2 linked regions of the Homo sapiens genome follow. The protein of the gene in region 2 purifies or fractionates together with the protein of the main gene of each other region. This does not show direct contact. Each region holds a gene or a part of one and is shown on either strand. Other genes may lie near its edges.

Evidence for each region.
Region 1: the proteins of SEPHS1 (region 2) and TPD52 fractionate together in Homo sapiens (co-fractionation; one large-scale study listed by BioGRID). This does not show direct contact.

What each region holds. Positions count from the first base shown.
Region 1 is NC_000008.11:80,048,679-80,053,991, forward strand, and holds part of TPD52 (tumor protein D52), read right to left. Parts: intron 4,753-5,313; coding exon 4,604-4,752; intron 3,998-4,603; exon of another isoform or gene 3,928-3,997; intron 2,951-3,927; coding exon 2,849-2,950; intron 2,593-2,848; exon of another isoform or gene 2,574-2,592; intron 1,794-2,573; coding exon 1,767-1,793; intron 1-1,766. Other genes in the region: TPD52-MRPS28 protein, read right to left, coding at 2,849-2,950, 4,604-4,752.
Region 2 is NC_000010.11:13,320,135-13,325,447, forward strand, and holds part of SEPHS1 (selenide, water dikinase 1), read right to left. Parts: intron 2,914-5,313; coding exon 2,701-2,913; intron 1-2,700. UniProt on the Homo sapiens protein: Synthesizes selenophosphate from selenide and ATP.

The DNA of each region.
Region 1 (5,313 bases), on a different chromosome or scaffold from region 2:
GAACACAATCAGGACTTCTTGGCCTTGAAATTATTTTTTTAAATGCCTTTACCTAACCTGTGATTTGCAAGAATTACAAAGTTTAACTTTCAAAAGATAATCTCATTTCTTTCATTTCCAAATTTTAATCAAAAACCTTACTTTAACCCCTACATACTGATGGGCAATTAAATATTCATAAAAACTTAATATTTATTAAAAACAAGACTGAAAATGGTACAGCATAATCTTAATTATATTTTTTAAACAAAATGGACAAAGTGACTGTGAAAGGAGCTAGAAAACAGTTGCAAAACATAATTTGTTGCTGATGAATTAATAAGACAGCACACACTGAGCCATATCTAGGTATGGCTTTAAGGTATAGAAAGGTATTCTTTAAAGGTATAGAAAAGTCTAGTGATATGTACTGAAGAAACATCATCCTCAATAGCCCTTACTTTTATATCTTACACTGATGTTTGCATCACATCGAACATTTTATAACCAGTACTGATAAGGCTCTTCCATTCTTAACTTATCCCAAGTCCCCACTCTTCCCCTACTCCACTCTAAGATTTTAAGCTTCATTCTAATAAAAGCCATGCGTTCTTTATGGTTATGCCCATGGAACCTGTCCACAGTAGACACTCTAAATGTTAGCAGAATGGGTGATGTGACTGGCTCTGTATTCAGTTACTTATAGCACTTTTTAACTGAATGCCAACGATACACAATCACCTATCATTGGTTACTTGATTTTTTAAGCATAATTTTAGCTTTAAATAGTTCAACATTTAGAGTTTATATATCCCTATAATTTACTCTGACTTCCAGGGGTAAGTGTCACCAAGATAGGAGCTTTAAGTACCTGTTTGCTTACTTAAAAAGGCAAGCAGCTAGACTACCATGAGTGATTGCTTAAGAAAATAATCTGCATCCATAGGAACAGAGATGAAGACTACTATATCATCCTTCCTGCTTATACTCTAAAGACTTTCCTCCACCTTAGTTTCCTCCAACAACTAATCAGATAATCAAAGAGTCTGCCTGGGAAAGAGAAAGGTTTCCTCAACATCACAAAGTCTCTTTCTATAAGGCATGGTTTGAGCTAACATCTTTTTAATGTGCTTTTTTTAGCTTAATATTCTTTTCCCTTTTTCAAACCATGAAGTTGCCTTGTGTACATAAAGAATATAACAAGTGTAAAGAAAGAATAAAATCATAAAAACTATAAGCTAGTAAAACAAGTATTAAAAAGTGCAGAGTAGTGGCAGATTTTACCTTATGTATATTTTACCACAACAACAAAAAAAAAGGTAGAGTAACCAATAGAAGATGGAAGACTAACATCAGGAGGCAGTACATATGCAGTCTGTTACAATTGTGTAATGAAACCCAGGTGAAGAATTCCAACATCCTTACAAAAGTACCAAAGAAACAAAAGCATCAAAACAAACAAAGTCAGACATTAAAAGGGAGGAATTTTGCATGCCATGGTAAAGCTGCTTCTTTTTACCAAAGAAAAAAGTAAAAAAGAAATGTCAAAATCATTTCCATATCCCTTGAACCACAGTGTCAAATACTTCTTTTAATTTATCAACTACCCATGGTATACAAGAAACCCTCCCTTGAAATTAGGAATGCACTAGAGAAAAAGATACTCTAAACGCAAGAAAATTATGTACTGGACAAACACGATCATCCAACGTAGCATGGTAATCTAATCTCAGCACACTTTTCTTATACAACTGCTGGACTGCAGTGATGGTTCAAACTCTCCTTACCTAAAGGAATGTGAAAAGGCTTGCAATCTGTAAGAAGCCAGAGTAAGCATTAAAAAAGAAAGAAGTTCTGATAAATCTAAAACAATTAAATAACCTAAGTTTTAAACATATAATGTTTTCCCTGGGCTCTAAACTGCTACACAATTCAGTCAGCATAGAGAAAATGAACACCTAATAGATACATACATAATTGTCAAAAGAGTTCAAGAAAGCTATATTTATTACATTATGCTTAGACAATGACAGTCTAAATATAATGAGCGAGGAATTTGTTCTTTTGGTGTAAAGTATAACACATAAATTGACCAAATCTATTCAACCAAGAAATTCTGGTTGTAAGATATACACTTTCCCCACAAATGCAAAACACGAAGCCATGCAATCTGAGCATTTTTTTTTAAACACAAATCTTGCATGCCAACAGAAGCACAGCTGACTTAAACCACATTTGTCATTTTCATCACTATCCTAATCCACATGAGTGAAGGGGGGGCACAAAAGCACTGTGAAGTGGTTTTATAAAAATGGCAAGGAAAACTCTGCAGACTAATCTAAATGAAAAAAAAAAAAAGCAACAACTCAAAATCAAGATTTTGGCCTAAGCATGAACATAGTTACAGCTTACCAGTTAGAATAAAACAGTGCACAAATGAGCATGTTGTAATCACACCATGATATAAAATGTCACATATAGAACGTGAAGCCAAATCTGAATCGAAGCGTGCACTTCAGTGCTCCTGTAGTCATCCTTAGTAACACACCAGGCTCTGCCCACAATCACAAATTTGCAACCAAAGACATACTTACCCTGCATGATCATGAAGAACTAAAAAGACAAAGAAGTTCACAACCAGAATTTTTCAACAACCTTAAATGATCATCAGATGATCATTTGATGTTAGAATGCTAGGCCTAGAAGACCTTAGATGAGCCTTCCAGGTACTGGTTTGAAGGAGTGCCCTCCCTCACTCTAACAGGAGTAGCTAGCATCAACTAGAGCCAAGGTCAGGAAACAGATGCAACAACAATAACATTTTAATTTGCGTCAGCTACTTAATGAGCAAGGAAAAATGAGGACATACTTTACATCTTCCAGCTTTTTGGTGATGACTGAGCCAACAGACGAAAAAGCAGCTGAGGCCTTCTGTCCAGCCTGGGATAAGGTTTCAGATGTCTTCTTGTAACTATATTAAATTATAAACACACAGAGCAAAAGAAGGGTCAGCTCATCTTTTCTAATATCAATTGTTTCAAGTGCAGTGGTCACCACCTGCTGGAGAACTCTCAAAAAGAGAAAACATTTTTCAGAACTTCTAAAATCCTTCATAACCAGCAGAGCGGCATCACCACATCTTCGTATGCTCAACCCTAAGCTCAGGCACAATCTTCTGCAGTGCCCTAGTCCAGCCAGAAAGACAGAGTCCTATAAAGGCAGGGCCAAAGAAGTCAAGGTAAGGGCTAAAAATAATCATCAAACCAAGATGAAAATAAGCAAAGGCCTGAAAGAACTCATACCTATTGTTCTTTTCTCACATAATCCAAACAAAACAAAAATGAAATCAAATTCCTCAGATGCCTTTGTCAACTTGATTTCCTAAAAAAGGGCCAGAAGCAATTAGTAGCTGGCGTAAGTAGGACCCATTTGTATTTTATTATCCAAATACATTTTATGGGCATACTTTCTAAAAATTTTTGCATGTCTTTAGAGAGCTACCAAATACGGACATGATGGACTTTCAACAAAGTATGTAAAATATGCAATGCTTAAAATTATTCTAGTGTGGTATCTGCTATCACGCAAAGCTATAATTTACCACCTCCTTCCCAGCTACCTGGAGATTAGAGAAGAGAAAAGCAAAAACAAAAAAATGATGACAACAACAACAACAAAAAACAAAATAATATCGTACCTACCAAAACAATTCCCACATTATGGGAAAGAATGCTCAGGCATTTTTACTTACCCTGTCAAGATCAAATACCAATAAAAAAACATGGTTCATGGTAATACTGTTGAAAAAATAGTTTCCTGTATGTTTTCCCACTGCCAACTTAGATGGGTAGAAAATGGACCAAAAGACTGGGGACTCAAGTACTGTCATGTTAAATGCAGTTGGCCTCACTTCTGATAGTTAAATTGTAAAACAACTTCTGTGCTCACCAGCTCTGCAGATGGCTCTCAATACAGAAGACAGAGCAGTTCGGTTTCTGCTGCTAGAAGCTTGCTCCTCCTTGTGCCGGGAAACAAAACTGCATTATGATAATGCTATATCATAGCATGTGTGGTCAAAAAGACAAAAAGCCTAAGGGATTGACCTCTGCCAAGAGCATATATCTGAGACTACGACCTGAGAATCTTTTGATACCTACACAACAAGGTTAAAAAAATACATTAATAATAATAATAAAGACTGGCTCCAGACCTGAGTTTGAATTCCCACTCCACATTTTGAGAGGTTTGTGACATGAAAACTTAATTTGTCTGAGCCTGTTTCCTTATCCAGGGTTATCTTGCCACCCATTCTTACTGGGTTATTCTGAGTACTAAAGGACAAAATGTACATATTTGTGGCAAGTCAATACATAACACTTATGGGATTTGAATTTTATTTCTCCAACTGGCTAGCTTTCTTTCTATTCCTTAGAATAAGTGGTCTGGAAAAATTGAAGTTACAAAAAAAGGCAGGCACACTTGAAAATCAGAAAAAAAGGGTGCCGTGTCGTCCAAAGAAAAGCTGCTGAAGCATCCTTATCCTCTTTTTCTTCCCCTCTCCAGACAAAAGGCACAACAGTGTCCTTTACACTCCCAAGGAAAGTGTATGATCAAGGAAACATACGCAGATGTTGCTGTCACGTCTTGCCACCCTTTGGCAATGTTCTGTTTTAGTTCCTGTAGAGAATTGATTCCAAGTTTCCGCTTGATCTCTGCTAGATGCTTCTCTTTTGCTGCTAACACTTGAGACAGAGTCTGGATTTCTTCTTCTACCTATGAGGAAGGGGTTTGGGGTAAGAATATAGCAAAAGTCATTCAGTAAGTTAAGATTATTACCACAGAACTACATCCAAAATTCCAGTCATTAAACATTTTTTTGAATCATTTATCTTTCTCTCTAAAAACAATGTATAATGTTGTTGAGTAAACTGGTTACTTGCTGATCTCTCCTGTAGAGTTCTCTTTCCTCCTCCATGGGAGCTCTTTATAATCCCATCTTAAGCTGTTTTTGGCCTTCTCCTCTCTCCCTATACTTCCTTACTCAGCTATCTCATGTAGGTTTAGGACTCAAATTTCTACACAGATAATACTTAATAAAGCACTCTAACATCCACTCTCCCGACCTGTGGGTCTGCCTTCCCAGCCTAGACATTTCTATCTGAATGCCTACAAAACTTGTATTTGTATACTAAATCAAAATAATCTCCATCCCCTACCAAAACACACACAACCAAGCCAAACCCAAATCCAATCTCCTTGCATATTTGATATGAGTATATATACTGGATACATATACTCAGTCCCTGTGTCTGGCAAAGTCATGGCCATAATAAA
Region 2 (5,313 bases):
TAAAATACATTAAAATAAACCTTTGTTGCTCTTTCCAGTAAATAGGCCATAAATTTTTTTTTTTTTTGAGACGGAGTCTCGCTGTCTCCCAGGTTGGATTGCAGTGGTGTGATCTCGGCTCACTGCAAGCTCCACCTCCCGGGTTCACACCATTCTCCTGCCTCAGCCTCCTGAGTAGCTGGGACTACAGGCGCCCGCCACCACACCCGGCTAATTTTTTGTATTTTTAGTAGAGACAGGGTTTCACCGTGTTAGCCAGGATGGTCTCGATCTCCTGACCTCGTGATCCACCCGCCTTGGCCTCCCAAAGTGCTGGGATTACAGGCGTGAGCCACTGCACCGGGCCAAAATTTATTTCTCTAAGTAGAAATAAGATGATGAGGAAAAACTGTAGTCTACTTCTACAAAATGTAAAAACCTTGTGGCTGGGCATGGTGGGTCACACGTGTAATCCCAGCACTTTGGGAGGCCGAGGCGGGTGGATCACCTGAGGTCAGGAGGTAGTTCAAGACCAGCCTGGCCAACATGGTAAAACCTCGTCTCTAAATTAGCTGGGCATGATGGCACAGCCCTGTAATCCCAGCTACTCGGGCTGAGGCAAGAGAATCGCTTGAACCGGGGAGGGGGAGGTTGCAGTGAGCTGAGATCGCGCCATTGCACTCCAGCCTGGGTGACAAGAGGAAAACTCCATCATAAAATTAAAAACTTCCTATTTCTGAAGAAAGGAAACAAATTTAAATGGCTGGTAACATTCGTCAATTCATTCAATTTCCATTCAGTGCCCAATTATGTGGCAGACACTGTCCTGGCCAGAGCCTGAACCAGCAGGGGAAAAAAACCCTGCCCTGTTGGAGCTTACTTCTAGAAAATGGTTTGTTTTTTTAAACGGGAGGCTGAAGCGTCCTCTATAAAGGCGGTGAGAGGCCTGGCAGAGTCCTGAAGCCCCCTCGCCACAGCACAGGTCGACGTGACCAGGGCTTTGTGGTCCCAGCACTGTGGTCCCTTGCCCCGGCCTACTACGGAATCTCCCAGGCAGCCTTCACAGATGCTGAGGCCCAGGCCCACCCGAGATGGATCCCACCGTTTTTGGGAGGCTGGGGCTAGGCATGTGTATTTTTCTTTTTTTTTTTGAGACAGAGTCTCACTCTGTCGCCCAGGCTGTAGTGCAGTGGGGCGATCTTGGCTCACTGCAACCTGTGCCTCCTGGGTTCAAGCGATTCTCCTGCCTCAGCCTCTGGAGTAGCTGGGATTACAGGGCACACGCCACGACGCCCCGCTAATTTTTGTATTTTTAGTAGAGACAGGGTTTCACCATGTTGGTCAGGCTGGTCTCGAACTCCTGACCTCGACCTCCCAAAGTGCTGGAATTACAGGCGTGAGCCACCAGGCCTGGCCGGCATGTGTATATTTAAAATCCTAAGGTGATTCCACTCTTTTGCGGGTAGAAAACTAGAGTTCTAGAGGAAAGGAAATAGAAAAAGAGAGAAACCGAAAAAAAGGGAAAAACAGGGAGACTTAAAAGATGAAAACAGTAAAGGTAAAGGGAACAAAGGGGGCAAAAGAGAAATGGTACTTCAGGAGGACGCGCCATCTGGCTCCAGCTGGGGCTGCGGGAGTGGGAATGAGCGATGGCGAGCCTGTAGGCTGTGGGTGGCGGCCTCGGCGGCCGGCAGGCCATGCTGGAGTACCTGCCATGATGAAGAGGAGGACGTCCCACAAGTTCCGGACAGATGTGGCCACCAAATTAATCAGGAAACAAAAGGAGCTTAATCTTAGAAAAATGATAAGGGATATAAAAGCTCCCTAGGAGTCAAACTACTGGGGCGTATGGTGTCAGACCTGCACTGCTGTCTGATGGCTCTCTCTACCTACGCTTGCTCCATCTCCCGTTTATCCTCCATTTATGTTTCCTCTAATAAATTACTGCACATCTAAGAAAAAAGAAAAATGGCATTTTAAAGACATAATATCCTATTGCATTCTTTTTTATTCTGTATCATTCTCTTTTCTTTTTTTTTTTTTTTTAAGGCAGAATCTCGCTCTGTCACCCAGGCTGGAGTGCAGTGGCGCAATCTCGGCTCACTGCAACCTCTGTCTCCCAGGTTCAAGTGATTCTCCTGGCTCAGCCTCCCAAGCAGCTGGGATTAAAGGCATGGACCACCACGCCCAGCTACTTTTTTTTTGTATTTTTAGTGAAGATGGGGTTTCACCATGTTGGCCAGGCTGGTCTTCAACTCCTGATCTCACGTGATGTGCCTGCCTCAGCCTCCTGAGGTGCCAGTATTACAGGCAAGAGCCACCACACCTGGCCCCTTTTCTCTCTATCATTCTTAAAACAACGTTAGACAATTTTCAAGGAAAAAAATATCACCTGTTCAAAGTAACCTAGGGGTATTACAGTTAATTTCAAATGCGAAGCTTTCAGTAAAAACTGAATGCTACCTTATTTCCCCCATCACCATATCCTTGCATCAAAAAGAGCACAGGCCACTCAACCTCAGCAAGGCTGCTGGATCCACCCAGGATGGCGGGGACCAGACCCACCGGGAGGAGGAAAGGCACCAGCTGCTGCGGAGGCCGAGGTCAGCAGCATGGAACTCGAACAGAGTGGGGGCCCACTCGGGGTGGGGCTGCTGCTTTCTCGCTGAGCTTTCTGTTAGCCTCACTATTTAGTCCTCAGATGCGCCCAGCATCCTGTACCTGAAGTCTCCGGGCAGGTCCCGTGCATGAGGCCGAACATGTTTCCGCAGGCCTTGCTCACCGCAGCCATCTTGGCCAGCACCGGGAGGTTGTGAATTACAAACGACACCTCGTTCCTCTGCTGCTTGGCCAGGTTCTGCGCATGGCCCAAAATCCCGAAGCCCGTGATGTCAGTGGCGGCGTGGGCATTGAACGTGTGCATGAGTCCTGCAGCTGGGAGAGAGAGGGGGCGGCTCTGAGAAAAAACACCTTTCCTCAACTCAAAAATCTTACGTCCACAATTAATCTGCAACTTCCTTACTTGTCAGGGAGATGACGTATCGGAATAATGAAAACGCAATGTAAAATCAACCAAAGACATAGTGAAATTCCAAAAGTTCTTATTTCACTTTGAGCCACCTGAAAACTATCAGAAGCTTCAATTAATAGTAGTTTTCCAGTAAACTAAAAAAACTATGCAGAGGGATTATGATCTCAGTGGAAGGTAAACCGGCCAAGACCATCCTAAAACCAAAGACCGGCACTTTTTTCCTTTTTTGAGATGGAGTCTCGCTCTGTCATCCAGGCTGGGGTGCAGTCGTACGATCTCGGCTCACTGCAACCTCTGCCTCCAGGGCTCAAGTGATTCTCCTGCCTCAGCCTCCTGAATAGCTGGGACTACAGGTGCGCACCACCACGCCCAGCTAATTTCTGTATTTTTAGCAGAGACAGGGTTTCACCATATTGGCCAGGCTGATCTTGAACTCCTGACCTCATGATCCGCCCGCCCTGGCCTCCCAAAGTGCTGGGATTACAGATGTGAGCCACCACACCCGGCCAAGACCAGCACTTTTTAAGAAGGCCTTGCTCAGTATCAAGGTACTCCCGCGAAAGGTGAATTGCGTGCAAGTTTATTTTTAAATTTCTTTCTTTTTTTTTTTTTTAAGAGACAGAGTCTTGCTCTATTGACCAGGCTGGAGTGCAGTGGCATGATCATAACTCACTGCACTTGGGCTCAGGCAATCGTCCTGCCTCAGCCTCCCAAAGCGCTGGGATCACAAGTGTGAGCCACTGCTCAATAATATTCCATACTACAGATACACTACATTTTGTTTATCCATTCATCCACTCACCTACTATTATTTAATTATCCATTCACCCGACCTATTATTTAATTTTAAAAAAATTTACAGACTTTATTTTTTGGAGCAGTTTTGCGTTTAGAAAGAAATTAAGTGGGAAGTAACAAATCCTCAGTGCTCTGCTCTACCTGATCCCCTTCCTCTCCGATAACCTCTGGCCACCACTGATCCTTTCTGCATCTCTACAGTTTTGCAGAATGTCATGCAGTTGGAATCCTTCTGTATGGAGCTTTTTCAGACTGGCTTCTTTCACTTAGTAATATGCACTTAAGATTCCTCCACATCTTTTCATGGCTTGATAGCTCATTTCTTTTTACTGCTCAATTATATTCCATCATACAGATACACTACATTTTGTTTATCCATTCATCCACTCACCTACTGAAGAAATGAATGGCTGCTTCCAAGTTCTGGCAATTATGAATAATGCTGCTATGAACATTTGTCTGCAGGCTTTTGTGTGAATGTAAGTTTTCAACTTTTTTGAGTGAATATCAAGGAGCACAATCGCTGCATCATATAATAACATATTTAGTTTCATAAGAAACTGCCAAACTGACTTTTAAAGTGGCTGTGCCAGTTTTCAGTCCTACCAGTAATAAATGAGAGTTCCTTCCTGTTTCTCTACATCCTTGCCAGCAGTTGGTATTATCAGTGTTTTTGGGTTTTTTTTGAGACAGGGTCTCGCTTTGTCACCCAGGCTGGAGTGAGGTGGTGCGATCACAGCTTACTGCAGCCTCGACCTCCTGGGCTCAAGGGATCCTCCCAACCTCAGCTTCCCAAGTAGCTGGGACTAAGGCGCAAGCCACCATGCCCAGCTAATTTTTTGTATTTTTTTGGTAGAGATGGGGTTTCACCATGTTGCCCAGGCTATTCTCAGTGTTTTGGATTTTAGCCATTCTAACAGGTATGTGGTGGCATCTCAATCACTGCTTTAATCTACAGTTCCCTATTGACGTACCACACTGAAGGTTTCCTTTTATGCTTATTTGCCATCTGCGTTATCTTCTTTCATGGTGTCTGTCAAGGTCTTTGGGCCATGTTTAAATTGAGTTGTTTTTTATTATTGAGTTTTAAGAGTCCTTTGTATATTTTGGATACCTGACCTTGAACAGGTATGTGTTTGGCAAAATTTTTCTCCCAGTCTGTGGCTTGTCTTTTCATTTCCTTAACAGTGTTTTTCACCGAGCAGAAGTTTTTTATATTAATAAAGCCAAACTTAGCAATTTTTTAATAGATAGTGCTTTTGGTGTTATAAAGTCATCACCAAACCCAAAGCCACCTCAATTTTCTCTGATGTTACCTTCTTCCAGTTTTATATTGTTGTGTTTTATTTAGGTCTACGAATCATCAATATGGTCTGGCTCTGTGTCCCCACCTAAATCTCATCTCGAATTGTAATCCCCACATGTCAAGAGAGGGACCTGGTGGGAGGTGACTGAATCATGAGGGCGGTTTCCCTCGTGCTGTTCTCGTCAGGGTGAATGAATTC